Linked DNA regions of Homo sapiens: region 1 is linked to region 2. Evidence: fine-mapped QTL for protein levels in blood plasma. A gene starts in region 2. The other region holds a variant in brackets. All regions are shown on one strand. Distances are between the middles of the regions. Region 1 has its middle 25 kb from the start of PHACTR2. Region 2 holds the start of PHACTR2 (phosphatase and actin regulator 2).

Evidence for each region. PIP is the chance, under the fine-mapping model, that this variant and not a neighbour inherited with it causes the effect. The UK Biobank Pharma Proteomics Project read protein levels with antibody pairs (Olink). The fine-mapping took linkage between variants from a reference panel, not from the people measured, so its PIPs are less certain.
Region 1: its variant is fine-mapped to the plasma level of the PHACTR2 protein (UK Biobank, PIP above 0.99).

Annotation. Positions count from the first base shown.
Region 1 is chr6:143,644,614-143,660,492 of GRCh38, forward strand. It overlaps a transcript of PHACTR2 not described here. Among named protein-coding and RNA genes, the nearest start is that of PHACTR2, 25 kb to the right of the region's middle. The variant C/CTGTTTGTT (reference allele first, on the strand shown) is at 7,777.
Region 2 is chr6:143,669,665-143,685,543 of GRCh38, forward strand. PHACTR2 (phosphatase and actin regulator 2) reads left to right here and starts at 8,301. Exons shown (of 13, transcript NM_001100164.2): 1 at 8,301-8,545. The coding sequence starts at 8,500. RefSeq lists an enhancer at 7,645-8,493 and a silencer at 8,243-8,542.

The sequences.
Region 1 (15,879 bases), 25 kb before region 2:
TTTCACATTTTATCAGCTTTAAAGTCAGGATATGTATTATAATCAATGGTTTCTTACAAATATAATTGGCAACCATGTTTTGTTTTTCTTAGTGGTATGTAAAACAATGGTGTATCTTAAAATCAATCATGGCATCTTAGGGTTTGTTTTTTTTTTTTGCCTTTTAAGTAATGTTTATTTTTCATTTGCTTGTTTTTTCTGTTTTTTGATATTTTTAATTTTATGTCTGTAGGCTATTGGGGAACAGGTGGTGTTTGGTTACATGAGTAAGTTCTTTAGTGGTGATTTGTGAAATTTTGGTGCACCCATCACCTGAGCAGTATACACTGCACCCCATTTGTAGTCTTTTATCCCTCACCCCCTTCCCACCCACCCTGAGTCCCCAAAGTCAATTGTGTCATTCTTATGCCTTTGCATCTTCATAAGTTAGTTCCCACTTATGAGTGAGAACATACAACTATGGAAAACAGTGTGGAGATTCCTTAAAGAACTAAAAGTAGATCTACTATTTGATCCAGCAACCCACTACTGGGCATCTACCCAGAGGAAAAGAAGTCGTTATACAAAAAAGATACTTGCACACAGATGTTTATAACAACACAATTCACAATTCCAGAAATATGGAGCCAGCCCAAATGCCCATCAATCAACGAGTGGAAAAGAAACTGTAATATATATATATATGAATATATATGAATATATATAGATGATGGAATACTACTCAGCCATGAAAAGGAGTGAGTTAATGGCATTCGCAGTGACCTGGTTGAGTTTGGAGACTATTATTCTAAGTGAAGTAACTCAGGAATGAAATGAAACATCATATGTTATTTGGTTTTTATAACAGGAGATATAGCTTGTTTATTTCAAGCCACACTCAGTGTTGGAAAATGCTGTTTCTTATTCTGTAGGTCCAGCATTCCCAAGCTAAAAGAAAGTTGTGTGGCGCTAAAGTGTTTGGCAAGGTTGTATTATTGATAGGTGAATTGCTCATAGGAAGAGAAAAATTTAAGTGACTATATTAAGAATGTTCTGGTATTTATAGTTCTCTGTCTTTTCCATTCTTGAGAATGTAATGTTCTTTGTGTTACTCTTTAAAGCAATGGAGAATAAATAAATTGTTTAGTAAGTCATGTTGACATTATTCCTTAAAAAATTGAAAGAGACTGTATGTCCCTTCCTCATAGAATACACAAAACTAAATTACAGCTGAATTAAAGATTTACATCTAAAAGCACTTAAAAGTACCAGAAGAAAATATTTTTTAAAGTGTGTATTCGTATCACTAGAGTGTGGAAGTCATTCCATAATATGACACTAATATCAAAATTTATAAAGAAATGATTGAAAGGATTGATTACCTCAAAATATATAACAATAGTCTATCAGAAAAGATGAAGCATAGATTTAAAAAAACTGGAGAAGAATAATTATGCAGAGATAAACGTGTCAGAAACAATAGAATACTTTTTTTAATATTTTACATCAAAATGTATATTCTCCAGTCCTTAAACAGGCATTCAATGAGCATCTCTTATGTCTGAGGTCATAGGCTGGGTACAAGAGAGGTATAAATTAGGCTCAAATGGGGCCCACAAAGAGCCCCAAATCTAGGGTTTTATTTTCATTGTTAGAGTGTCTATGTCTATGTCAGTAATTGGGATTATTTTTAAACTGAAAAACTCTATCCCACTTTAAAACTCCTAAATAGAACAAGCATTTATCTAACCTTAATATCATAGCATAACTCCTTAAAGTTTATTGACTTTAAAATAACTAAATTCAGTAGCTCTCAAATATCCATAGTATGAGTGACAGACCTGTAAAATCTAATTGACTTTATTTGGCAGACACAGGCAAACACATACATGTATTTTAACATAATATGATGACTACTTAGACATAACCTGATCCTTCAAATATAACTGAAAAAAAGGTGCTCCATTTTGCATGATTTATTATTGAACTAGAGTTCCCTTTCCTAGGTACATGGAGCAAATAGAGAAGATAATTAGAATTCCACTTTTCTTGAAATGTCAAGAAGGGCAGGTGTACTCTGACCTCAGCTTTAAGTTTAACCAAATATATAGGGGGATTTGAGACTGCTCCACATGTTTCTCATGGAATTTCCCCCAAGCACTACTCTCTGAAGAGCCTGAAAAAGTATGTAAGAAAAGCCTTGTTCTCTCTTGACATGAAGTTATGCTCAGCCTGCTTATTATGCTAGAGCTTAGTGTCTGAATAGCAGAGAACGTTTTCTCATCCTTAGTTATGTTTGTTGTTCTAACATAACAGTCTTCTGATCACGATGATTCTCTATAATCAACATTTCTTAAGTGCCCAGTGAGGTAAGCCTTGCTTCTAAAGAATTTTAAAATGTATTTTTAGCAAGGCTCTAAAGATTAAGTCTTCACCTTGCTGTCAGCAGTTACATTTTTTTCTAAGGGGTAAAAAGCACAAACCAGAATTATGCTAGATCTCCATTAAGATATAAAACATTTTATGGTGCCGGGTTGCTGTTGACCTACATTGATAATTGGAAATATTACAACTTATTGCAAAGGTACTAAGTATTATCTATTATAATATGTGTTTTGCATCCCTTTCTGTGATGTAGATAATATTAGTCCTATTTTGCAGATGAGGAAACCAAGACTCTGAAAGCTAAAAAGCTTGCTAAAGTCACGTGGCTAATGAGTAATAACAAGATTCAAAATCAAAACAACCTGACCCTGAAACCCTCCTGTTAACCAGTGACCTTTTCTCCTCTCAAAATTCTGCAGTAAATGGAAACCATTTCACATGTGTTTATTCATTCACACCTACAGTGTGCCAGCTCCCAGTGTAGTCTAGGTATACTATCCATGGTGAAGAGGACAGCCTAGGTCGTTGCCCTCATGGGCTTGCATTCCATTGAGACAGATACATTTCTCAGTGCTTAATTTAGTTAAGTGAGATGGGGGCGGGAAAGAAGAGAAAATAGAGAGACAGAGAATCATGGGGTTTTGACTTTACGCGGGAGTCAGGGAAGGCCTCCGTGAGGATTTGTTAGCTGAAAGGAAACCTTGGTTGAAGTGAGGGAGGAGGAAACCTTGCAGATATCTTGGGAGAAGAGCACCTGTACAGAAAGAACAGCAAGTGCACAGCCCCCTGTGCTGGGAATAGGCTTGTGTCTGAGAACCACAAAAAAAGCCAGTGTGGCTGGAAAGGGCAGGTAAGGGAGAGCATAAGGGGAAATGGGCACAGAGCTAGCCACAGCCAACTCAGGGAGGCGTTGTAGGCCCTGGTAAGGATTTAGGACTTTCTTTTGACTTCTGTGATAAGAAACCAGTGAAGGGTTGGGCTTGGGGAAGTTGCCCCTGGCTGTGTGGCCGCAGTGGAAATAAGGGAAGCAGGTAGGATCCTGCCGTGACCCGAGAGAGATGTATGGCTGCGACAGAGCCACAACAGTTGGGAACTGGTGGGTGATGACATTTGGGGTCTGTTTTGAGAATTCAGGGGATTTATCATCTCGTTGGTGGCAGGAACAAAACTCATAGCAGCATAGTGCAAGAATACAGACAGCATCCTGTTAAGGACCGCAGTGTTTTCTGCAACTTCTTCCATGTGTCTACTGCAAATTGTCTGAGAAGGGCAGGGCCTAGGAAACATGGTGGAAGTTTTGAGATAAAAATATTGCAGCCCATCTGCATTTCCCTGGGAGCTCAATTAGTCATCACTTTGCCTTATTATTTACTAAGCGTTCATCATAGTTCTAAATAGATTCCTCAAAAGAATTAAATTCAAAGGGCAAAGGGGTAGAAAATGGATCTGACTGTCTCTGCACTGGGAGTCCCTGGGAGGGGGGGACGAGGAGGAACAGACCAAACAAAGCATGGCTGATAGAAAGGGAAGCCTGCGATGGGTGGGTTGAGTCAGGTAAGACAGAGAAGCTTGCTAAGGTGGAGTGGAAGGAAATCCTATCATTACTGTGGCTGCCCTCTGAGGTAGGAAGGAATGAAGAGCCCGGGAGGTTTAAAGTGCTCTGAAGCACTGATACTGTAAATGTGGCATGCTAGCATAGGGGAAAGTGTAATTCAGACAGGCAGACTACTCTGTCTGCATTCCTACAACTGCTTCTCCTCCCCAGGATGTGCACGTGTGTGTGTCTCTGTGTGTGTGTGGGCATGTGTCTCTGTGTGTGTCTGTGTATGTCTATGTGTATATCTGTGTGTATACAAGTGTGTGTCTGTGTATGTGTCCATGTGTGTGTCTATGCATATGTGTCTATGTATGTTTGTGTGTGTGTGTGTGTCTGTCTGGGTCTATGTGTATGTCTATGTCTATGTATGTTTGTGTGTGTCTGTGTGTCTATGTGTATGACTGTTTCTATGTATGTCTCTGTGTGTCTCTGTGTGTGTCTGTGTGTCTATGTGCATGACTGTGTGTGTCTGCATACACTCAAAATGCTTCTGTGGAATAAAGTCAATTAGATTTTGCCTTTCCACATGGCTTCTGTATGACCTGTGCTTGACCAACCATCAACCAAAGCCCACGGCTTTTCCTCTGAAAGGGATGCCACATTTTTGTGTGTGTCTGTTTGTAAACAGTGACATTCAAGCACAAGGGTTAGGGATGGAGTGGATAAGGAGGGTGTGAAACAGCACAAATCAGAGAAAATTTAAGAGGTACAAGAAGAAGGTTTTTTGCCTTGGCTTTAAAATGCTGGTAAACACTAACTAATTCTATGAGGCCAGCATCATCCTGATACCAAAACCTGGCAGAGATACAACAAAAAAAGAAAACTTCATGCCAATATCCTTAATGAAACACCAATGCAAAAATCCTCAACAAAATACTGGCAAACCAAATCCAGCAGCACATCAAAAAGCTTATTCACCATGATTCAGTAGGCTTCATCCTCAGGATGCAAGGTTGGTTCAACATATACAAATCAATAAATGTGATTCATCACATAAACAGAACTAAAGACAAAAAAACCACATGATTATCTCAATAGATGCAGAAAAGGCCTTCAATAAAATTCAACATCGCTTCATGTTAGAAACTCTTAATAAACTAGGTATTGAAGGAACATAACTCAAAATAATAAGCACCATATATGACAAACCCACAGCCAATATCATACTGAATGGGAAAAGCTGGAAGCATTCACCTGAAAACCAGCACAAGACAAGGATGTCCTCTCTCACCACTCCTATTCAACACAGTATTGGAAGTTCTGGTCAGGGCAATCAGGCAAGAGAAAGAAATAAAGGGTATCCAAACAGGAAGAGGAAGTCAAATATCTTTGTTTGCAGATGACATGATCCCATATCTAGAAAACTCCATTGTCTCAGCCCAAAAACTTCTTAAGCTGATAAGCAACTTCAGCAAAGTCTCAGGATACACAATCAATGTACAAAAATTATTAGCATTCCTTTACATCAACAACAGGCAAGCTGAGAGCCAAATCATGAATGAACTACCATTCACAATGGCCACAAAAAAATAAAATACCTAGGAATACAGCTAACAAGGGAAGTGAAGGACCTCTTCAAGGAGAACTACAAACCACTGCTCAGAGAAATCAGAGATGACACCAAAAAATGGAAGAACATTCCATGCTCATGGATAGGAAGGATCAATATCATGGAAGTGGCCATACTGCTCAGAGGGATTTATAGATTCAATGCTATTTCCATTAAACTGCCATCGACAATCTTCACAGAATTAGAAAAATCTATGTTAAAATTCATGTGGAACCAAAAAAGAGCCCAAATAGCCGAGGCAATCCTAAGCAAAAAGAACAAAGCTGGAGGCATCACCCTACCCAACTTCAAACAAAACTACAGTAACAAAAATAGCATGGTACTGGTGCAAGAACAGACACATAAACCAATGGAACAGAATAGAGAAGCCAGAACTAAGACCACACACCTATAATCATCTGATCTTCAACAAACCTGACAAAAACAAACAATGGGGAAAGGATTCCCTATTTAATAAATGGTGCTGGGAGAACAGGCTAGCCATACGCAGAAAATTGAAACTGGAGTCCTTCCTTACATCTTATAGAAAAATCAACTCAAGATGGATTAAAGACTTAAGTGTAAAACCCAAAACTATAAAAATCCTAGAAGAAAGTCTAGGCAATACCATTTAGAACATAGGCATGGGCAAAGATTTCATGACGAAAACACCAAAATCAATTGCAACAAATGCAAAAATTGGCAAATGGAATCTAATCAAACTAAAGAGCTTCTGAACAACAAAAAAAACTGTCATCAGAATGAACAGACAACCTACAGAATGGGAGAAAATGTTTGCAATCTATCCATCTGACAAAGGTCTAATATCCAGCATCTATTAATACAAGGAACTTAAACAAATTTACCAAAAAAAACAAACAACCCCATTAAAAAGTGGGCAAAGGACATGAACAGACACTTTTTTTAAAAAAGATATATATGCAGCCAACAAACATATGAAAAAAAAGCTCAACATCACTGATCATTAGAAAAATGCAAACCGAAACCACATTGAGATGCCATCTCATGCCAGTCAGGATAGCTATTATTAAAAAGTCAAAAAGCAACAGATGCTGGCAATGTTGTGGAGAAAAAGGAACACTCTTACACTCTTGGTGGGAGTGTGAATTAGTTCAACCTTTGTGGAAGACAGTGTGGTGATTGCTCAAAGACCTAGGAGCAGAAATACCATTCGACCCAACAATCTCATTACTGGGTGTATACCCAAAGAAATGTAAACCATTCTGTTATAAAGATACATGCATGTGTATGTTCATTGCAACACTATCCACAAAAGCAAAGACATGGAATCAACCTAAATGCCCATCAATGATAGACTGGATAAAGAAAATGTGGTATATATACACCGTGGAATACTATGCAGCCATAAAAAGGAATGAGATAAAGTCCTTTGCAGAGACATGATGGAGCTGGAAGCCATTATCCTCAGCAAACTAATGCAGGAACAAAAATCAAACACCGCATGTTCTCACTTATAAGTGGGAGCTGAATGATGAGAACACATGGACACATGGCAGCGAAACAACACACACTGGGGCCTGTTAGGGGGTGGGAGGGTGCAGGGAGGGAGAGCGTCAGGAAGAATAGCTAATAGATGCTGGGCTTAATATCTAGGTGATGGGGTTGATCTGTACAGCAAACCACCATGGCATACACTTACCTATGTAACAAACCTGCATATCCTGCACATGTACCCACAAATTTAAAATAAAAAAATATATAATATATATATAAAAGAAAATGTGGATACACAGAGACACCAGACATAGGCACTCACACAGAAAAGGCCATGTGAGGACATAGAGAAAAGGCAGCCACCTACAAACCCAGAAGAAAGGCCTCAGAAGAAACCAAATCAACTGATGCCTTCATCTTGGATTTCTAGCCTCCAGCCTGAGAAATTAAAGTTCTGTTGTTTAAGCAAAAAAAAAAAAAAAGGCCGGTAAACACTGGTGATTCTGCTTTATACTAAAAATGATGGCGGTGATGGGGGAACCGTTTACTAGGTACAACCACAAGATATTTGGTCAAAAAGGATTGAAAGCCACTACTTGCTTTCATTTCTTGAAATACATTTCTTTAAATACATACCATTTCTTGAAATACATTTATTAAGCACAGATGAGTGTTGTTTTGGTTTTTGTTTAGTGATTAAGTGTACAATCCCCAATAAAATATTTTGAAGTTTTTCCAAAGAAAAGAAACTCTGCCTGGCTGCATCAGCTAGACAAAGGTACCTGCGCTG[C/CTGTTTGTT]TGTTTGTTTGTTTGTTTGTTTGTTTGTTTTTCCCTGTATCTGCTGGAATATTTTAGCTGATGGACATTTGAGCTGGCATTACTTAAATGAGAATCTCTTCAAAGTGATGCACGCTGTGTTTTTCCCTGTGAGACGTGTGAATGCCTTGTGGATATTTGTGAGTACACTTAAGTGTTTTTGTTTTCCACTATGCTAGGTCAGTTTTCAGATCTTATTAAAAAGCTCAGGGTTTCGGGAATCCGACTGTTCTGCAAATGCCTGCTGCTGTTGTTAAGTGGCCTGTACCATCCTTGAGTAGGCAAGAAGAGCTGAGATTTCACCAGAAACAGTGACATTCACACCCAGGGGCTGAAATAAGGCGGAATGCCCACCTGGAGATAAGTCTTGGCTGTCACACCTGGACCGCCTGCTCTGGTCATGTGTGTGTGTGATCTATAATAGGGTCACAGCTTTATGAAATTCAGTCACTTTGTAGCAGCCACTCTAAGGAGGATGATTCATGGTCCCTGTGCAGGCACTGCACCCAGCACCTTCTCAGGAACATTCACATTATTTCCAGCTGGATTGAGGCTGGAAGCTCCCTGGCAAGCAATAGAAAAGCACCAGGTGTTCCCAGCAGCGCTCTCTTTCACCCTTGCAAGCTGCAACTGGCAAGAGAATTGTACTTGATGGCACACGGTGTGATGGTTGCCTCACTGCCAGAGCATTTGTTCTGGATGCCTCTGTCCCCAGGTGTCTCAGAAGTAATCCTAATCATTGAACTTTGGCCCTCTGGAAACAAGGCCAGTCGCAAGACACGTCAGGAAGCAATTTGTGCATCGAGACTCGAGCTGCTTTGGAGTTTCCCTCTGGATTTTAGTCAAGCTGTCACAAAGTTCATGACTTGGTTTTTCCACTCTTGTAAAATGAAGGCTGCTCTGACTCCTGCCTGCAATCTCCAGCTTATTGCCTTTAATACTTCCCTGTTGCTATTGCTAAACCCCTTACCTTATACAGACTGTGGAGATGGGCAAAGGAAAAAAATCTCCAAGCTTTTTGATATGGTGCTTTGAAGACACAGTTTACTAATGGCCTGAAAGAATTCATTGCAGCTTCCCACATGCAAAGTTTATTTTCGGAGAGTAGTTTATATATGGAATAAATGGAATAGAATTGAGTCCAGAAATAAACTCTCACATTTTTAGAAAATTGGTTGTCAACAAGGATGCCAAGACAATTCAATGGGGAAAGAAATGTCTTATCAGCAAACAGTGCTAGGGCAACTAGATATCTATGTGAAGAAGAATAAAGTGAGAACTCTACCTTACATCATATTAAAAAATTAACTCAAGATTGATCAAAGACCTAGATGTAAGAGCTAAAACTATAACAGGCTTAGAAGAAAACATAGGTGTAAATTTTCATGACCTTGAATTAGGCAATTATTTCTTTAAAATATGACACTAAAAGCACGAAAAACAAAAGAAACAATAATAATTTGGACATCATCAAACTAAAAATGTTGTGGCTCAAAGGACACCATCTATAAAGTGAAAAGACTACCCAGAGAATGGGAGGAAAGTTTTGTAATGTTGTATCTGAAAAGGGAAGTATCTATATAGAGAACAATTACAATGCAATAATAAAAAGACAAATACTCCAATGTTCAAATGGGCAAAGGATTTGAAAAGACATTTCTCCAAAGAAGATATTCAGATATCTAATAAACACATGAAAAGATGCTCAGCATCATTAACCATCAGGGAAATACAAATCAAAACCACAAGAGACCACTTTATACCCATGGGAATGTCTATAATCAGAAAGACAGGTAATAACAAGTGTTTGCAAGGATTTGGAGAAATTGATGGTGGAAATTTAAAATGATATAGTCACTTTAGAAAACACTCTGGCAGTTCCTCAAACAATCAATCATAGAGTTACCATATGAACAGCAATTCTACTTCTAGGTATATACCCAAAAAAATGAAAACATATATTCACCAGAAACTTGTTTATGAAGTGCAGAGCAGCATTATTCTTAACAGCCTAAAAGTGGAAACAACCCAAATGTTCATCAAACTGATGAATTCGTAAATAAAATATACTATATCCACTCAATAGAATATTATTTGCCAATTAAAAAAAATAAAGGCTGGATACTGTGGCTCACACCTGTAATCTTGGCACTTTGGGAGACTGAGGTGGGAGGATCACTCGAGGCCTGGAGTTCAAGACCAGCCTGAGCAACATAGCAAGACTCCATCTCTACAAAAAGTAAAAAATTAGCCAAGCATGGTGGTGCACGCCTGTAGTCCTAGTGACTTGGGAGGCTGAGGTTGGAGGACTGCTTAAGCCCAGGAGTTCAAGGCTGCAGTGAGCAATGATCATGCCACCACACTCCCGCCTAGGTTGCAGAGCAAGACCTTGTCTCTACAAATAAACAAAAACTAAATGAAGTATTGATACATGCCACAACATGGACGACTCTTAAAAACATCATGCTAGCCGGGCACTGTGGCTCACGCCTGTAATCCCAGCACTTTGGGAGGCCGAGGTGGGTGGATCACCTGAGGTCAGGAGTTCAAGACCAGCCTGGCCAACATGGAGAAACCCCATCTCTACTAAAAATAAAAAATTAGCCGGGTGTGATGGCACATGCCTGTAATCCCAGCTACTTGGGAGGATGAGGTAGGAGAATTGCTTGAACCTGGGAGGCGGAGGTTGCGGTGAGCCGAGATCGTGCCACTGCACTCCAGCCTGAGCAACAAGAGTGAAACTCCGTCTCAAAAAAAAAAAAAAAAAGAAAAAGAAAAAAAAGAAAACATCATGCTAAGTGAAAGAAACCAGGATGAACGTTGTATGATTCTATTTATATGAAATGTCCAGAATAGGCAAATTCCTAGAGAAAGAAAGTACATTAGTGGTTGTCTAGGGTTGGGGGAATTGTGGGGAACAGGAAGTGATGCTAATGGGCATAGGGTTTCTTACTGGGTTGATGACAATACCATAAAATTGATGGTAGTGATGGTCACACAACTCTATGAATATACTAAAAACCATTCCACTGTATACTTTAAATTGGTGAATTGTATGCTATGTGGATTATATTTCAATAAAGAAGATATTTAAAAATCACAAAATATAGATGATTAGAGAATATGGAATATGTCATTAATTATAGATTTTTTCTGCATTTTTAATACTTTCTTTGACTTCACTTGCTTTCTCAGATGTTTCTTAGAAAACATCCAAAGCAAAGATTTACAACTCTGTACGGAAGCCACAGATTTTGTAAGAAAAGGCTAAAGAGAAAAAGATTACTGCAATGTAGTGTTTGCATTTATGATTTACTTTCTATTCACGTTTCAGACTTAGTTATTTACTTTGCACCTATTACCACATACTTGCTATTATCTCTCCATACACATGAAAGTTCTTCGGAATTTTTAGTAAAATGTCCTCAGTTTCTGAGTCAAACCTGTCTACTGAGAATCAAATATAGTTTTCACTAAAGTTGCTTCCTACGAATTGCCATGTGAGAAAAAGAAGAAAACAGACGGGCAGCAGATACACTATTTTCTCCTAGTTGATGGCAAAAATTAGATCTCTATCAAGATCAAAAAAGAGTTCTTTATTCCATGAACTAAGTTTCTTATCCTAAGGTGATTACCGGGGGAAATATTTAAAAGAAGCATCAGTGGAGGGAAGGGTAAATCGTGGGATAAAATACACTCATTGACTTTCTTCTCCAAGCCAAACTGCAGAGGAAATAACAGGCGCAGAGACTTCTAGCAGGGTTGTCTGGTGGGACATGCCCTGGGATATGGGGTCAGTCCATTCCTGTCCAGACCAGGGACTTCCTCTGACCTTGGCAACTCAGTTACCTCCTGTGAGCCTAAGCTTTCTTGTCTGCAAACTGAGAGATCTCTCAAGTCTTTCCTGGCTGTAACAGTTACAGGGGCGTCCAATCTTTTGGCTTCCCTGGGCCACATTGGAAGTAGAATTGTCTTGGGCCACACATAAAATACACTAACACTAATGATAGTGGATGAGATTTTTTTTTAATTGCAAGAACATCTCATAGTGTTTTAAGAAAGTTTACGTATTTGTTTTGGGCTGCATTCAAAGCCATCCTGGGCTGTGTGTGTCCCACAGGCTGCAGGTTGGGCAAGTTTGGTCTATGATTTTATAATCTGATCTAGTATTCTCTGAGACATCAATGCTAGATGAGGATACAGGTAGATGAATGAATATTGTAGTTGAGTAAATATTACACCCGGTGTGTTGATTAATGAATAGATGTGATCATAGAAGAAGCAATATCAAGATTTTTCACCAGCCTCTGGAGTTATCACTGATTAGCAAAGCATTTTAATTAATAACTCAAACAGAAAAAGCATGTCTGTTAGTTTTGCAATCCGCAAAAAGATGAACACAATAGACATGTTAATTCCCAAACTTAGTTTCAAAAAAACTATCTGCCAGGTTTCAAATGAACATAGGCTTGATTGGCCACACGAAAATTTAAATATTATGAATGTTGAATGGCCAACCATAAGTTCAACTTGAACTAAGTTTGATGTGGCTACTTTTTATTTTTTACTTTTCAAAAATTGTGGTACACACTGCATCTTCTCACTCATAAGTAGGAGTTGAACAATGAGAACACATGGATGCAGGGAGGGGAACACCACACACTGGGGCCTGTTTGGGGGTCGGGGGCAAGGGGAGGGAGAGCATTAAGACAAATACCGAATGCATGCAGGGCTTAAAACCTAGATGACGGGTTGATAGGTGCAGCAAATCACCATGGCACATGTAAACCTATGTAACAAACTTGCACATTCTGCACATGTATCCCAGAATTTAAGTAAAAAAAAAAATTGTGGTACAATGTACATACAGTGAACAATTCAGAGTTTTGTCAATTTCATACAGCCATGCACTCCACACCCCTATCAAGATGTAGAATATTTCCAACCCCTGAAAAAAGATCCTTCATGCCCTTCCCAGTCAGTCCCCACCGAGGCAAACACTGATCTGATTTCTCCCCAGTACGTGTTTTTCCAATCCTAGAACTTCATCAGTCATAGAATATGTACTCTTTTGTGTCTGGTTTCTTACACTCAGGAAAATGGTTTTGAAGGTCATCCATTTTCTTGGTTTTATGAGTAGTTTCTCGCAGGTTGTATTCCCTGGGAAGAGACAGAGATGAACACGCAGGGCATTGATAAAGGAGTTCTCTTAGAAGCCACGTCTTTTGAAAGGCAGGGAAAGAAGTCAGATTGAGCAGATTGGGGAATAGAGCTGTGAGGCAGCTCCAGCCCCAGCCTCAGTGCATCCCAGTGGGGGTACTGGCGTGAGATTGTCTGTCAGTTATCTCAAGGTGGGGTGTGGGGACCTTGATGCTTGCCCCGTGTTGATCAGGCATTGGATGTGGGCTCCTTCTACAGGAAGGTGGTATCTCGGGCAAGCCTGCAGCTTTCAGGCAGGGAAGTTCTCCTTATAAAAAGCTGACAGCTGAGGGCTGTCTCCCAGCAGCACTCCTAGCAGCCAGGGGAAATAATCCCTTTATTTCTGAGGGGGGGTCCAGGCAGCACATCACAGTGTTTTATTGCTGAGTAGTATTCCATTAATGGACATACCACAATTTATTTACCCACTCTTCTGTTGAGGGACGTTTGGCCTGTCCAGTTTGGGGCTATTATGAACAAAGCTGCTATGAACATTCCTAAACTGGTCTTTTTATGGATATATGTTTTTATTTCTGCTGAATAAATGACAAGTAGAATTTCTGAGTCATAGGGTAGGTGTATGTTTAACATTACAGAAACTGCCAGACTAACCTGAGCTTCAACAACAAATGTGATTTTAAAATAAATTTGGGTACAAATATAGAAATACACCTTCAAATTAACAAGGGAAATTCAGGTGAAACTTAAATATGAACTTAAAACTTAACCTGAAGTTGACCTCCTTAATGATAAGGTTCTCCTGTGCAGTATTTGAAAACGAATTACAGCACTCAGTCTCTTTTTCCCAACAGATTTTTTTCAATAAAGTACAACCATGCATTGCTTAAAGACAGGGATACAATCTGAGGTGTGTTGTTAAGTGATTTTGTCATTGTGTAAACATGATAGAGTGTATTTTAACAAACCTGGATGGAATAGCCTACTATACAACCTAGGCTGTATGGTATAGCTTATTTCTCCCAAGCTACAAATCTGTGCAGCATGTTACTGCACTGAATACTACAGACAATTATAACACAATGGTAAGCATTTGTGTATCTAAACATATATCTAAACATAGAAAAGGTATAGCAAAACTATAGTGTAAAGATTAAAAAACAAACAAACAAAAAATGGGGTTGGGCACAGTGACTCTGCCTGTAATCTCAGCACTTCGGGAGGCCAAGGTGGCAGGATCACTTGAGGTCAAGAGTTCGAGACCAGCCTAACCAACATGGTGAAACCTCATCTCTACTAAAAATACAAAACTTAGCCGGTCAGGGTGGCATGCGCCTATAATCTCAGCTGCTCTGAGGCTGAGGCAGGAGAATCGCTTGAACCCAGGAGGTGGAGGCTGAAGTGAGCTGAGATCATGCCACTGCACTCCAGCCTGGGCAACAAAGCAAGATTCTGTCTCAAAAAAAAAAAAAAAGATAAAAAATGGCACACTTCTATAGGACACTTACCATGAATGGAGCTTGCAGGACTGGAGGTTGCCCTAGGTAAGTCTGTGAGTGAGTGATGGGTGAATGTGAAAGCCTTGGATATTATTCTACACCACTATAGACTTTATAAACACTGTACACTTAGCCTACACTAAATTTATATTTAAAATTTCTTTTCCTAATAATAAATTAACCTTAGCTTATTGTAACTTTTTTACTTTATAAACTTTAAAAATTTTTTAAACTTTTTTACTGTTTTGTAGCAACACGTAGCTTAAGACACAAACTCACTGTACAGCTGTATAAAAACCCTCTGCTGAGGGTGTCAGGGTCTCATGAAGCTGCAGTCAAGGTGTCAGTAGGGATGTCGTCTCATCCAAGGCTTGACTGAGGAAGGATACACCTGGAAGTGCATGTGGTCACTGGGCAGCACGCCATTCCTTGCAGAATGCCAGACTGAGGGCTCAGTTTCTTGCTGGCTGTGAGTGGGAGGTTGCCCTCTGTTCCTTGTCCTTTCCATGTGGCAGCTCACAACATGGCAGCTTGCTTCTTTAAAGCCAGGTGAAGAGCCAGTGTCCCCTAGCAAGACAGACGTGCCCTCTCAGGGGGAGGGGATCACACAAAGGTGGATTACCTGGGGTCTACCTTCACATCTGTCCACCATGCTCCCAATGGTAAGAAGCATTTATTGTAGTACCTCAGTTAGTCAAATATTTCCTTCCTCCAAAAGCAGAGGAAACTAGAACTCCCTTCCAGTTTGTTCATCCATACACAGTGATTTGTCAGGTAATGAATGTTCCTGATTAGCTTTAGCACTGGTGTATTTCAACCAAATCAATTTTTAAACAAAAGACAAAGGCCAGTAACATTAAAAGAGAAGTTGAACAGAACTTTAACTGGGAACACTAAAAACTTAAATGTATGTATTTAGTAGGTACATATTAAATGTCATTATGGTAATATTCAGATCTGGTGTTTTCTCAGTTACTGCATTAAAAAACTTAAGTGCTCATTTGTAAATGGTGTTCTATTGACAATACTGCTTACTACTGGTAGGCCTAGCAGTAAAGCTGCTCTCCATACTTTCAATAAATCCTCAATCTCCTTTTCCTATTTCTCCTGGTACCCACAGACCTTGTATTAGTCCATTTTCATGCTGCTGATAAAGACATACCCAAGACCGAGCAATTTACAAAAAAAAAAAAAAGGTTTATTGGACTTAGAGTTCTACATGGCTAAGGAGGCCTCACAATCATGGCAGAAGGCAAGGAGGAGCAAGTCACATCTTACATGGATGGCAGCAGGCAAAGAGAGAGCTTGTGCAGGGAAACTCCCATTTTTAAAACCATCAGATCCATGAGACATATTCACTATCACAAGAACAGCACAGGAAAGAGACTCCCCCATGATTCAATTGCCTCCCACCAGGTCCCTCCCACAA
Region 2 (15,879 bases):
GTCTGTTTTATCAGAGACTAGGATTGCAACCCCTGCTTTTTTTTTTCTTTCTTTCCATTTGCTTGGTAAATATTCCTCCATCCCTTTATTTTGAGCCTATGTGTATCTTTGCACACTGATAAGTCTTGGCTCTTTATCCAACTTGCCAATCTGTGTCTTTTAATTGGGGCATTTAGTCTGTTTACATTTAAGGTTAATATTGTTATGTGTGAATTTGATCCTGTCATTATGATGCTAGCTAGTTATATAGCCTGTTAGTTGATGCAGTTTGTTCATAGTGTCGATGGACTTTACAATTTGGTATGTTTTTGCAGTGGCTGGTACCAGTTTTTCCTTTCCATATTTAGTACTTCCTTCAGGAACTCTTGTAAGGCAGGCTGGTAGTGATATTTCTCAGCATTTGCTTGTCTGTAAAGGATTTTATTTCTCCTTTGCTTATGAAGCTTAGTTTGGTTGGATATGAAATTCTGGGTTGAAAATTCTTTTAAGAATGTTGAATATTGGCCCCCACTGTCCTCTGGCTTGTAGGGTTTATGCAGAGAGATCCGCTGTTAGTCTGATGGGCTTCTTTTTGTGGGTAACCCAACCTTTCTCTCTGGCTGCCCTTAACATTTTCCCTTCATTTCAACCCTAGTGAATCTGATAATTATGTGTCTTGGGGTTGCTCTTCTCGAGGAGTGTCTTTGTGGTGTTCTCTGTATTTCCCGAATTTGAATGTTGGCGTGTCTTGTTAGGTTGGGAGAGTTCCCCTGGATAATATCCTGAAGAGTGTTTTCCAACTTGGTTTCACTCTCCCCGTCACTTTCAGGTAGACCATTCAAACGTAGGTTTGGTCTTTTCACATAGTCCTATATTTCTTGGAGGCTTTGTTCATTCCCTTTTATTCTTTTTTTTCTAATCTTGGTCTTCATGCTTTGTTTCATTATGTTGATCCTCAATCTCTGATATCCTTTCTTCTGCCTGATCAATTCGACTATTGATACTTGTGTATCTTCATGAAGTTCTTGTGCTGTGTTTTTGAGCTCCATCAGGTCATTTATGTTCTTCTCTAAACTGGTGATTCTAGTTAGCAATTCCTCTAACCTTTTTTCCAGGTTCTTAGCTTCCTTGCATTGGGTTAGAACATGCTCCTTTAGCTCAGAGGAGTTTATTACCCACCTTTTGAAGCCTACTTCTATCAATTCATCAAACTCATTCTCCATCCATTTTTGTTCCCTTGCTGGCGAGGAGTTCTGATTCTTTGGAGGAGAAGAAGGCCAAGGCCTTTTTTTTTTTTTGAAATGGAGTCTCGCTCTGCAGCCCAGGCTGGAGTACAGTGGCACGATCTCGACTCACTGCAACCTCCACCTCCCAGTTCCAGGTTCAAGCAATTCTCCTGCCTCAGCCTCCCGAGTAGCTGGGATTACAGGAATGCGCCACCATGCCCAGCTAATTTTTGTATTTTTAGTAGAGATGGGGTTCCACCACGTTGGTCAGGCTGGTCTTGAACTCCTGACATCATGATCCGCCTGCCTCAGCAGCCTCCCAAAGTGCTGAGATTACAGGTCTGAACCACTGCACCTGGCCCAAAGTCTTTATAGTTAACTGCAAGGTCCTATGTGGTTATAATCTCCTTCTCCTCATCTTTACCTCTCTTATTCTATGTACTCCAACCACACCATTTCCCCTGGATTCCTCAAACATATGCCATGCTCCTGTCTTTATATTAACTGGTCTTTCTTCTTGGAACACCTCTCCCCCAGATAGCCATATGGTTAACTCCATTACCTCCTTTGTGTTTTTGCTTAAACATTATCTTCTCAGTGAGGACAACTGTGAACACCACATGCCAGTCCAATCTCTCTTACTCTTCTGAATTTCATAGCACTTTTCATCTTCTAAATTGTTATAAAGTTTACTGATTTATTATGTTTACTGCTTATTTTCTGTCATTCCATTAGAAGGGAAGCTCTATGAGTGCAGGTGTTTTTGTATTTTGTATAATTCTGTCTCCTAAGTACCTAGAACAAAGACTGGTAAAAAGGAGATGCATAATAAATATTTGTTGAGTGGTGAACCAATCAATGAGTTATTATTAATATAGAACTAGCATATATGTAACACAATATAGACCCAAAGTCTTTTCATGGAGCAGGAATACAGTGAAATACAGTTACATCCCAAATGCCCATTAACTGGTAAACAGATAAACAAACTTTTGTATAGCCATACAATGGAAGGCAACCTAGAACAAAAAGGAACAAAATACAGATACACAGAGCAACATGGATGAATATCAAAAACATATGAAACAAGCCAGATTAAAAAAAACTGTACATAATATTATTCCATTTGTAAGAAATTTTAGATAAATCAAAAGTATGGACATGGAAAGCAGGTTGGCAGTTCCCTAATGCCAAGGGTGGTACAGGGATGTGAAACAGGAATTAACTGCAAAAGGACATGATGGAATACCTTAGGGATCTCAAAGTTTTCTGACACTTGAGTGTGCTGTTGGTTGGACTACATGTTTATTAAAACTTATTGAACTGTTTGCTTTAAATGGGTACATTTTAGGGTCCATAACTTATTCTTCAAAAAGCTGCAAGCAAGCCTGGGCAATATAGTGAGACCCTATCTCTACAAAAAAAAAAAAAATTACAAATAATTAGCTGGGCATGGTGGCAGGCACCCATAGTCCCAGCTACTCTGGAGGCTGAGGTGGGAGGATTGCTTGAGCCCAGGAGTTCAAGGCTACAGTAAGCAATGATTATACCACTGCACTCCAGCCTGGGCCACAGAGCAAGACGCTGTCTCAAAAACAAAAAACAAACAAAAAAAGCTGCAAGCAATAAACAAACAAATACAGTTAATTCTGACCACCTACTATTAGAATTTAATCTTTCTTTAATTCAGGAAGCACTTCACAATCTTAGGGCACCTTCAGAATGAATGAGCACCTCTGTGTGGCAAAAATGTGGATTTAGTAATTTGCTAAAGTTCAGAGCCTTCTCTGTACTAACCTACTGGGCATCCCTAGCACTTGGAGGAACAAACTTCTTCTTTTTTATTTTTATTTTTATTTATTTATTTCTTTTTGAGACAGAGTCTCACTCTGTTGCCCAGGCTGGAATGCAATGGCTCAACCTCAGCTCATTGCAACCTCCGCCTCCCAGGTTCAAGTGATTCTCCGGCCTCAGCCTCCCAAGTAGCTGAGATTACAGGAGTGCACCACCACGCCTGGCTAATTTTTGTATTTTTAGTAGAGACAGGGTTTCACCATGTTGGCCAGGCTGGTCTCAAGCTCCTGACCTCAGGTGATCCGCCCACCTCGGCCTCCCAAAGTGCTGGGATTACAGGCATGAGTCACCACTCCCAGCTGGAGGAACAAACTTCTCTTCCTCCACTGTTAGGATCATGTATTTGTAGGCTGCAACACCCACCCTCCACCGTACCCATACTATGACCTCCGCCACAGGAGAGTCCATACCTCACTTATCCTTATGCCCATGTGCTAGAGGTACCACGCCCATGGGAAGTCCTCAGTCAATTCTAGGTGAATGAGTAGATGATTATTTCAGAGGGGCATACAAAAGAAAATTTACAGTCACAGACAGACTCGATATTCTCTTGCTATGGAGTCAACATTCTATATTATTACCAAAATTTTACATGTATTCCCAGATTTTTTTTTTTGTCCATACTTGGAAGTTACCATTAAGGAGATAACATAAATGCTTATTTTTAATTTATCATCTATGTATTCAGTACCCTCTATTTGCCAGGCAAATTTTGTTAGTTTCTAGGGATGGATGTGATGGTTAACAAAACAAAGATTTGGGCCTTACTGGAAGCAATTATTTTGTGTAAATTGGGCAGTCATATAAAAGATGTCTTTAAGGACTGTTCTCTTTAGATTTTGGTCAATAAATTAAAGATTATTCATTTTATAGCAGTTTTTAGAGTTTTAATACTATGGATGAGTACTTTGTTTTGCTTATGAAATGAAGTAGAGCAAAATTACAGACGCTTTTCCTCCCAGGGTAGGGAGAATGTCTTTGGAAAAGGAAATTCCAGCACCACCCCTTGAGGTCTTTATTTTCCAGCATAAATCTTCCAACTGTGGGGCTCACTCACTAAGCAAGCACACGTGAGCCACACCCCGCCTCTGCAGAGACTCACGCAGGGTGAGGCAGAGGCAAGGTATTTTGTTAATCCTTTTAGCTTGAGCAAGCAGAAGAAGGAAAACTCAGGAAATAAATCACATGAAAATATGAGAACAATAGGAAAGAAAAGCCTGTCTTTCAGGTTTGTTTCCTGTTCTAATACTTGTGGAATGTGGTCTTCTACTGATGCTTAATATAACTAGAATATGCAAAGTTGTAATTCTTTCCTTAACAAAAGTTTTCCTTTATCTGTTAGCATTATCCTGTTCAAACCAGCATCTCTCAGAATTGTTAAAATCTAAGATATAGTAGCCATTTAGTTGCAACTTTACCATAGAGTAACATTTTACAAAGTAAACATTAGTTACATATACAGAGTTTTCACTGAGTTTATATTATCTAGTAAAGCTCCCATTTGCTTTTTATATTTTTCTAAGTAAGCTGACTCTTACAAAATGTAGCCAAGTTTTGAAGACATACAAAGTTTTTAAAAACCAGAAGATCTTCTAGTAAAAACTACCCAAATAGTTAAAACAACTTTTGCATATCGTTTTTAGTATACTATTAGGAAAACTGCTAAGTTTTCATTCATTTCCTTCCCATTAAGAAATAATTTTTCTATTGCTACAATTCCCATTAGCCAAGGAAATGTCACTAATTCACAGGGTGTCTATGGTCAAATCTAGAAATAAGGGTGTAAATTAATGTAATCTTCATCTGCTTGTATATGGCCACTATCAACCACTGTTGCCTCCCAGGTCACTGCTGTTCTGATCAACCATCTCATCTCTTGGGACTCTGCCTAACCCTTCCCTCCCATCATAATTCCTCCACCCCTAACATCTGGTGTCTCAAAATGAATCCTCACACAGCTGGCAGCATCTGGACAAGGCAGAGACCTCCAGGATTAGTATTCATGGCATTTGTGTTCTGAGGAAGGTTCCTTCTTCTTCCTGCTCCAGGCTAGATTTGGCTGCCTAGAAAAATCTGGCAGTAACCTAAGTTATAGGATTTGGTAGTGGTGACTGTAGTAATTGTAAACCATCTTCTCTAAAGGCACCAAGTTGTATGTCTGCCATTTGGACTTTGACCTAGAAAAGAACTTTCTCACAAATGGTCCAGATTGCCAATGTTTAGGCTTTTGTCCGCTTTAACTTTAACCTAATAGATATAGTGGCTTCCATCCAGGAGGAGTGCAAGTGTCACTTTGGGTACCCCAGGTGGGTGAGTCTAAGACTTCCCACATCAGACAAGCCAGTGAAGTCTGTGTTACAGGGTAGAATGCTTGAAAACCTGATAAGTACAACTTTGTGTCATAAAGGCACACTGGCTTTCAGAAGGGGAAATTCTATCTCACTAATTCACTTTCTTTAGTTTCTTTCTGGAAATAAATGAATAAATCACAGTAGTTCTTTCAGAGCTTGAAAAATATTTAGAGTGTTCCATGGAAAAAATCAGTAGATGCCATTAGTCTATATTTTTAGGAAGGCTAAATAGAAGCTATTCCTCAAACTCAGCCATGGTATGATATGATGCGGCATTATTATAACAGAGAAAAGTAGCGGTGTGCTGAAGGCAGTTCACACAGGCTGGTGGGCCAAATTGTTACATTTCAAGGAATTTTGCAAGCTGTTTGATATCAGTTTTGCTAGCTGGTTGAAGGCCTGTAGAATAGGTTATTGTAGGAGTATTTACATCACAGTAAACAAAGCAGTCTGAGGCCCCCTCCTGCCTCCTCACCCCCAGCCCAAACCAGTTAAGCATTTACCAAGATATCACTGGATAAGAGATTGGTTTAGAAATAGAGAACAAAGGGTGGGACCAATGGGATAAATGCTGAAGAATTATAAATAGATAGCTTCCTCAGAGTTAGGTATTGGGTCTAATCCTGTTTAGCATTTTAATAAATTCCCTAGAGAGAGGTAGTATACAGAGAAATGTCCATGCCTTTCAGATGACATTAAATGTTTCCAGAGTTAAACTATAAACCCATGGGATTAACACCCAGAACTCTTAGTAAAACTGTGTGAGTTCTAATAAGGCAAGAGTAAGGCAATTTGGGGGAAAATTATCTTAAAATTCTCTTGTTAGGTGATAATATCTAACCTTTGCGTTACAACCTAGAAATGAAATTTAGAGATTTCTGTAGACGTTTTCTATGTTCATTAGTATAACTTGTTAGCTGTGATAAAAAGGCCACTTAAATGCCAAGTTCCATCAGAAGCTCTAGAAACCAAGAACAAGAACTGTCCCACTCTTAGAAAGAAAACTTAGTGCACACTTCCTGCAGTTTTGGTTGACATGCTTCAAGGATAATGTAATGGAACTGGAAGAGTTTCAGAGAAAATTGCATAACCTGGTTAGGGTATTATAGGAATCCCAGATGAGGCTGAAGATTATATTAACTAGCAAATCATGAAAGGTCTTGAATAAGGTAAATATAGCTGTATTAAGCAATTCCTGAAAAACTGGAACTATAGTGCACCTCCTTGATCTTTGAAATAAGAATTTATAGAAGTAATAGAAATATGCTATTGTTTCTCAAGGAAAAGAAGAAATGATAGCAACCTTAAAGTTTAACTTTTATCAGTATTTAAAAATTATTACAGTTACATATTTTGAATGTGCAAAAGGTACTGTATATTTCCTCTGATCAGTGACCTCCCTTTATCAGAAAGACTGTCAAAAGGAAGAGTGAAACATTCTCCCTCTTAACTTACCTTTAACCACTTTTGTTTGTTTGTTTTTTTCTTACGGCAACTCAAAGCAAAGAGCTGGAGGAGCCAGCCATTATAATTGCTTACTCTCATCGCTTAGCGCCCCAGGTGGGATGTGTTTCCAAAACACATTTTTGTATTTATAAGGAAATGTAGTTAGGATTAATTTTATTGTCCTAATTAGAACTCACATTTTGGTTAAATCCTCAATTTCATTAAAAAAAAAAAAATCAGTGTTTCTTAAGAGTGAATTAGGCAAAGGGAAGAAGACAATGGATCACACTTTTTTAGGGAAAAGATCTTCCTCACAGTGGTGGGTGGGCTATTTGGGTGTGAAAAAACATAGGGCAACTTAATTAACCATGACAAAACAGACAAGTAAGTGCCTTTCAAAAAAATCAAACAAGGCTCTGCACGATCTTAATAATAAAAATTTTAGAAAAAAATGATTTTCATGTTAGTTCAGAGTTGATTGTCTAGGATAAATTAAAAAATGAAAGCTGTGGTAAATGACCTAAATATATTGCACTTTCTGATATTTTTTACATTTTAATGAAATATATGCCTTCAGCAAAGTGCACACATCATTACAGACATCTCAATGAATTTTCATAAAATGAACACATCCAGTAACCACCATCCAATCTAATGCACCATATACAGATGTTCCATATACTGTATATATATATACACACATTATATATATATAGCATGAAGATTACTTATACTAATTAATCATTAACTGTAAATATGAAGAATATTTATTTGTATTCATATTTTTAAGAAGATTGAGATTTAACAGGATATTATAGAAGGGTTTAATTCACCTTTCAAGTTTGTTATAGTTTTTTTCCCCTTTTGTGTATTTTAATCACTTTATTTCACAGTAATTCTTTTGAAATAAAGGAGAGGTCAGCACTCCAGAGTTTTAGGTGGGAGACAGCAAAAAGTATATTTTGTTGATCTCACACGTAGACCTACCATTTAGATTTGTTGTCAAGCCTGATTGAGGCCATTAGTGCCGTTTTTAAAAAATTATATTTGTTAAAAGGAAGATAATTTTTAAAACGAGAAAAAAATGGGCACAAGACATGAGAGTGCCACAATACTGCAAATAGAATGTAAGGAAGGAAATAACTTTTAAGAAACAAATTTTGTTAAATTAAGTACCGTGACTAAATACTTTAATTCCTTTTCTTGTAGCCCGTAAGGATCATTTGACTTTGAACCTTTTAAGTCAAAGAGGAGTAGTCTGAAAGCCTGAACTCCCTACCACCCTGAGGGGGTGCGGGTGCGGCGGGGCCGGCTGGGGGCTTCCCCCACCCCCTGCTCCTGCGCCCTCCCCCCGCTTCCCCCTCCTCCCCTCCCTATCGCCCTCACCCCCCTTCTTCCCCCGTGACCCCTGACCCCAGCTAATCTGCATAGAGGAATGACAGGCATCCGCTGGGCAGGATCCGCCGCGCCGGCTGCGGCCGGCCGGGCTGGGAGACCCGCGCGGGGTAGAAGGTGAGGGGACCCGGCGGGCCGCTCGGCACAGGCCGGGACATGAACGCCTGGAAGTCTGGCTGGGAGCGGACCCATGATCGAAGGACCAAAGGAGCCGCTTGATCGCTGGACCTGGCCCTGCGACCCCAGTCATGGGCCAGACCTCGGTGTCCACGCTGTCCCCGCAGCCCGGCAGCGGTGAGTCCGGGGCGCACGCGATGCGCTCCCGCCGCGCGGGCGCAGGGCTGGCGGCGGGGCCCCGGGGCAGGCAGGGTTAGTCGTCTGGTCGGGTTCCGCTCGGACCCGCCAAGTCCCTCGGAGAAACCCCAGAGGTAGCGCTCGCCAAACTCTTTGTCGTGAAAGAGGAATGCCTTTTGGGATCCAGCCGATTTTACCTTAAAGGCACAGGCTCCATTTTTCTGTGCGCGATGCCTCGCTGTGGTTTTTTATCCAAATTATTTCGGAGCCAGAAACTTACGGGAAACGCCATTTGCGTATTACAGTGTTTTTAAAAACGCGAAACTTAGAGAGCAAGAGAAACATGCCAACAGGTTTTTCTGTATTTACGCTTGGCTTCCGAACAGACTAGGACTGAATGCTTTCAAGCTTGTCAACTGATTTATGGTTTGTTATTCGGAGTAGAAGCGCTGATCGCCTTATCCTGGCAGACGCTGAATACTTAATAACTAGCCCCGAAATGCGTAATTGTTTCAAATGAGACTTGTTTTGTTTATAGTAGATACAGCAGCTATAACATTTAGGGAAACATATCTCATGAACTTAGTTCTCCAGGACTAAAGTTAGTTTTATGGAGACGTGTGTAACGTGTCTGAGTTCTAATGCTCTGTTTTAAAAGTTTCTTTTTTCCATTTTCTTAAACAAAAAGAGGGAAGGAAGGTACGTCTGGCATTTCCCCGACAGTGTAGGGATAAAAAAAAAAAAAACTGTTTGGTGGTGTTACTTGTGATTGGATAAGGAAATAAATTTAAAAGGTACTATTTTGATATTTTTCCATCAACGATTAAAAATAAATAATACTCGAAGGGACCGTTTATGTTACTCATTGAGATATTTGATACACTTTTTAAATTGTGCAAACATCAACAGGATCTTGCTGAAAGGAAATGACAGGGTACAGAGGAAGGTTTTTTAATCTGCCTCAGGATGTCTAGCTAGATAGCATTCTGTCATTCCAACCCCCCACCCCACTTTATACCCAGTGGGTTTCTTTAGGTAGCACAGCTTCACTCCCTGAGATACCACAAGCTTTGCTGAGGTTTCTGTTAATACCACAGAAGACCCTTCTGCAAAGAAGAGACATCAGAATCAGAATATACCTTCTTTACCATTAATGACATGGCTACAGCTCTGAAATCAAAGACCTCATGTTGACAGCTTTTTGAGAGATATTTGCGGGGAGGGGTTGAGTAGGATTTTAAATTTAGTAAACTATTTTGTGCAAATAAGACTTGGTTTCCTTTGTCTTACCTTAAAGTGGTGTGAGACTTCTTTTCATTTCAAGGAAGGGTTATATTTTTACATTTGTGCACCGGCGAAGATAGAATTAAATCTGTACTCCAATACAAGAGTATACAGAAAGTATTGTCCTGAATTTAGTGATTTTATCACAAAATATTACTCGAGTGAATATTAGAAAAGCAAATTTTGCCTTAATAAAAATCAAGGAATATTATATAAATGATGTCTAAGAAGCAAATAAAATCCTAAAGTGAGACTCCCTACGTCTTAGTACAGCAAAAAAACCCGGATTGCTATAATTCCAAATAAAATGACTGATTATAATGAGAAACTGTAATCTACTTAAGTAAAAAGTGTTTTAAACAAAAATTTATGCTTGATCATGAAAGATAATTCAGAGAAATATCTCACGGAACGGTGTTATACTTAAATTGCAGGTCCTCAGTTTTGCGGATTAAAAGTTTGTATGAATTGAAATGACCAATCCATACATCATAAATACAGGGTTTTTTATTTTTCAGTTAAGGAATGACAGTGGTTATGACTTAAGTTGTGGTATTGTAAAAGAACAGTTTTCTCGTGGTATCCAGTGTCTCTAAATCCGTTAGAGCTACCCTGTTTCCCTGAAGGTTTGCCATCAGATTCCAAATGAAAACCAAAAAAAAAAAAATTTAAATTAAATAACGTTTGCTGAGTTTTATATTCATGTCTGTATTTTTCTGAGTCTGAGACTGTCAAACTCTCTACTATTCCAGGTATTTTGTTCACTCCTTGTTAACTGTTTAACTCTGGCTTTACAGATGGCGTGAAGATCCTTGTTCTGTTTGATCTTAGCCATTGACTAGTTGTTTAAGTCTGGAGCAGCTGCTTAGGATTACAGTATTAAAGATGATTCTCATCTTAAATGCTTAGTGGGCGAAAATCTGTTTAAGTCAAAGGAATCAATAGCACAGAGTTTAATTATTCATACTTATCGCTCAATTTGGCCTTTTGTAAAAATCTTCATTATAGGCTAGAAGTTAGCTTGCTTTCCCCGTTTTGACTTTAGGCTCTCTAGAGCCTTTCAGTTTAGGTTGCACCTAATTCTCTGGGTTCTAGGAAGACCATTAATAATTTTTTCTGAAAATATGCAGTTAGATCCATTATTAAAAAGAACAGCTGTATTGATGTATAATTCACATACTATAAAATTCACCCATGGAAAGTGTACAGTTCATTGTTTTTCAGTGTGTTCACAGTGTTGTGTGACCCTCAATCTCTGTTCCCACCCTATTCAACCAGTGGGCTCTACCTTAATGAAACACTAATCAACTTTTCTGTCTCTATAGATTTTCTTATTGAGAACATTTCATGTCAATGGAATCATAATGTGTCATTTTGTGACTGGCTTCTTTCAGTTAGCATAATGTTTTCAAGGGTCATCCATGTTGTAGCATGTATCAGTTGTTCATTTCTTTTTATTGCCAAATAATATTCTACTGTATGAATATGCCACATTTTATTTATCCATTTATCAGTTGATGGACATTTGGGTTATTTCTGCTTTGGGCTATTTATGAATAATGCTGCTCTGAACTTAATGTACAAGTTGTTGTGAAGATATGTTTTCATTTCTCAGGTATATATTTAGTAGTGGAATTGCTAGATTATATGGTAGGTAGTTCTATGTTTAACCTTTTATGGTGTTGCCAAACAGTTTCCAAAGAAGTTAGACCATTTTACATTCCCACCAGCAGTGTATGAAAGTTACAGTTTCTCCACATCCTTACCAACATTTGTTACTGTCTTTTTGATTATAGCCATCTTAGTAGGTGTGAAGTTATATCTCATGGTTTTGATTTCCTTTTCCCTAATTACTAATGACCTTGAGCATCTTTTCATGTGCTATTGGCCATTTGTATATCTTCTTTGGAAAAAATGTCTTCAGATCCTTTGCCTAATTTTAGTTGGATAATTTGACTTCTGTTGGAGTTTTAGTTCTTTGTATACTAGATCCAAATCCCTTGTCAGGTACATGATTTGCAAATATTTTCTGCCATTCTCTGGGTTGTCTTTTCATCTTGGTAGAGTGATTTGCAGCTCAGAATTTTAAAGTTTTGATGATGAGCAGTTTATCAATTTTTTTCTTTTGTTGTTTGTGTTTTTGGTATCACATCTGAGAACTACAGCCTAACCAAGGCAAGAAGACTTACACCTGTGTTTTCTTCCAAGCGTTTTATAATTTTGGCTGTTACATTTAGGTCAGTAATACATTTTGAGTTAATTTTTATGTATGGCGTCATGTAGGGTTTCATTCTTTTACATGTGAATATCCAATTGTTCCAGCACCATTTGTTGAAATGACCGTTCTTTCCCCATTGAATGGTGTTCCACCGTTGCCAAAAATTGATTGACTGTGTACATAAGGGTTTACTTCTGGATTCTCAATTCTGCTCCATTGTCTCTTCTTATGCCAGTTACCACAATGTCTAGATTACTGTAGCTTTGTAGTAAATTTTGAAACCTAGAAGTATGAGTTTTTCAATTTTGTTCCTTTAAAAGTTTCTACTGGTTATTCTGGTTCCCTTACATTTTCATATGAATTTTGCAATCAACCTGTCAATTTCTGCAAAAAAGCCAATTAGAGTTTTGATAGCAATGATATTGAACCTGTAGATCAATTTGGGTAGTACTGCTGTCTTAACAATATGAAGTCTTCTAATCCATGAACATAGATGCCTTTCCATTTCTTTGTATCTTCTTTCTTTTCACCATGTTTTGTAGTTTTCAGTGTAGTGCAGTGGTGCGATCATGGCTTATCCACTGCACCCTCAACCTTCTGGGCTCAAGCGATCCTCCAACCTCAGCCTCCTGAGCAGCTGGGACCACTGGTGCCCACCACCATGCCCAGCTACTTTGTATTGTTGGTAGAGATGGGGTTTTCTGTGTTGCCCAGGCTGGTCTCAAATTCGAGATCTCAAGAGATCCACCCACCTGGGCCTTCCAATATTGCAGGGATTATAGGCATGAGCCACCATGCCTGGCCTGAACTCATTTTTTAGTCCTAGTAGTTTTTCAGTGGATTCCTTATGATTTTCTATATACATGATCATACTATATACAAGATCTATTTACATGTGCAAAGAAACAACATTTTAATTCCTCCTTTTAGAGTTGAATGCCTTTTATTTTATTTTTTTCTTACTTAATAGTTCTGGCTAGAACCTTTAGTCCAATGTTAAGTAGAAGTGGCAGTTGTGAGCATTTTTGTCTTGTTCCTGATCTAACAAAAAAAGTTGTTTTTTTGTTTTTTGTTTTTTGTTTTTTTTTACCATTAACTGTGCTATTAGCTATGGGTTTCTTCATAGGTTCACTTTGTCAAAAAGTTCTCTGCTATTCCTACTTTGTCAGTGTTTTTATCATGAAAGATTGTTCAATTTTGTCAAAGGTTTTTCCTGCCTCTATTGAGGTGATCATATGGTTTTTGTCCTTTATCCTATTCATTTGTCATGTTACGTTAATTGATTTTTGGTTGTTAAACCAACCTTGCATTCCTAGGATAAATCCCACTTGGGTAATGTGTATAATCCTTTTTGTATGTTGCTGGGTTAGGTTTACAAAAGTATTTTACTGAGAATTGGATCCATTATTTCTAAGTACAGGCTAAAACGATATGCCCTCAAATAGGATGGTTTCGGTACCCTCTGGCATCATGCCCTAGGAGGATTGAGACTTCTAGTATTTCATTGTGAAGTGTAGAGCATGGTAGATTGGATACAATACATTTTTGATGAATATATGAATGAGTCAACAAATAGTCTCAATAAGCAGCCTGACTGCTTTAAACCAATGATTATATGAATGAGAGGTATGTATTTTTTATATTCTTTTTTTAGTCCAAGAATTACATTACTCTGGCTCTATTGTCTGAAGGGTGGTATCTGAATCTAGTAATTATTTCTTCTAGTTTTTTCCAACCCCACCCCATTTTCACGGTGCCACAGATCAGCACTTGGCTGCTTCTCCTCAATCCTTGGGTTGAAAGGGCAGACAATGCCACTGTCCCCATTTTTAAGAGACAAGAGAACAAGTAAATAAAGTGTGCAGGATCACACCTATGTTGTGATAGAACCTGTATTCATCTGTGTCTCTGGGTTTCCAAGTTTTGTTCAGGGCCCTGTATTTGTCTTGTCCAGAATATTTATCCATTTCCTTGTAAACCAGGCACAGGAAGAGGTCCTAAAGGCAAAAGCTGATGGAGTTTGTTTTCTTTATTCCATAATATATACATGGTAGGAAGTCAAACATTACAAGATGGTTTGGGATAAAAATGAATTTACTCCCTCCCAGAATCCTCCAGTCCCACTTTTCATCTATAACCCAGCATGAACAGTTTTTTTCATTCCACACAGTTTTCATTCATAGATATATCTTTATCAGCAGTCAAACAAGACATACTATACTTACTGCTCTATACTTTGAATTTTTCGTGTAATATAACTTGAAAATACTTCCAACTTGTTCTCTTTAATTCTATAAATGAACACTATTATAGTATGTGGATATATGAAAACTTCCTTTAAAAGAATCCTGTTGTATTTTAATATTGTTCCTGGGTTCTTTGCATATGTATATGCTCTTATGAACAATACTGAAATGAACATCCATATCTATGACCTCTCTCTGCACTCCAGGCTCAAATATGCAACTCCCTATTTGACAGGTCTGCTTGAAAACTTGCTGGGCATCCCAGAGGTAACATGGATCTAATGGAAGGTTTGATTTTGTCCTCCAAGCCAGTTCTTCCCTTGACTTTCTACATTTCACCAAATGATACCCCAACCACTCACTTATTCTAGCCCAAGATCTAGGAGTTATTCTTAGGTTTTCCTTTCCCCCTCCACATGGATCCATCAGCAGGTCTTGTTCTTTTTTCTTCCCAAATATATCTCAAGTCCATGCTCTTCTGTCTGTCCCTACTGCCACTATCCAAGCTCTGAGGCCATCCATTACATGGACAACTATAAACTACATGTCCTAATGACATATTAGCAGTAGAGTTGCTAGGTCAAAAGATTTGTGTGTTTTATTTTGATAGACTTTGCTACATTATTCTCAAAGAGGCTTTCTCAGTGTTATCTGCTTATTATATGAGAATTTCTGTTTCTGTACTCTGTCACCACCACTGAATATCAGGGTCACTCTTAGCCCATAGCCTCGTGAGAATTAGAAGTCACTTCCTCTGGGTGAGGCAGCTAGCTCCACAGCACAGACTTAACAAGTGGAACTTTAGCATGTATTTAATTCCCACTCATTCTCTTACCTATGTGTCCTTCTGCAGTCAACACTCTACACAACTGTACATGACCACAATGCTGTGCATAAATAATTTTTTAGACTCTTTGTAAATCTATATGTAAAAAATGGCATCTTATTTTGATTATGAGTGATGTAGGACATTTATATTTCTTTTTCTTTGAATTGCCTATTTATAGACTTTCCTTATTTTTATGGTTTCTTACAAATTTGTATATTCAGGAGATTAACCTAATGTCTATCATATATTTTAACATTAAAAATTTTTTTCTTGTACCTTAAGTTTGTTTATAGTACTTTTTTATAGAAACCTTTAAATTTTTAAGTCAAGTTGATTAGTCGTTTTCTTTCTTACAGACTAGGGCTATTTCAAAAATGCTTTCCTCTGCTATTTTTCTCATGTTTTGAATATTTGATCTCTGTAATTTATTCTAGCTTAAGATGAATAGATTTAATAGTATAAAATTTTTAAACTTTTACATGGCCAAAAAAAATTAACATCAGAAAGTTGAAAAGGAAAATCATAAAGTTGAAAGAAATATTTAATTATATATGGAAAATAATAGTTAATATCATTAATGTAGTAAGACCTCTTAAAAGTCAGTAACAAAAAGATAAGCAACCACATAGGAAAACAAGTAAACAACATGAACAGGCATTTTCCAAAATACCTAATGGTTACAATTGTGAACTCACTATGGGCCAGGAACTACTCTAAGTGCTTTACTTGAATTAACTTTTTAAAACTTATGACGTTC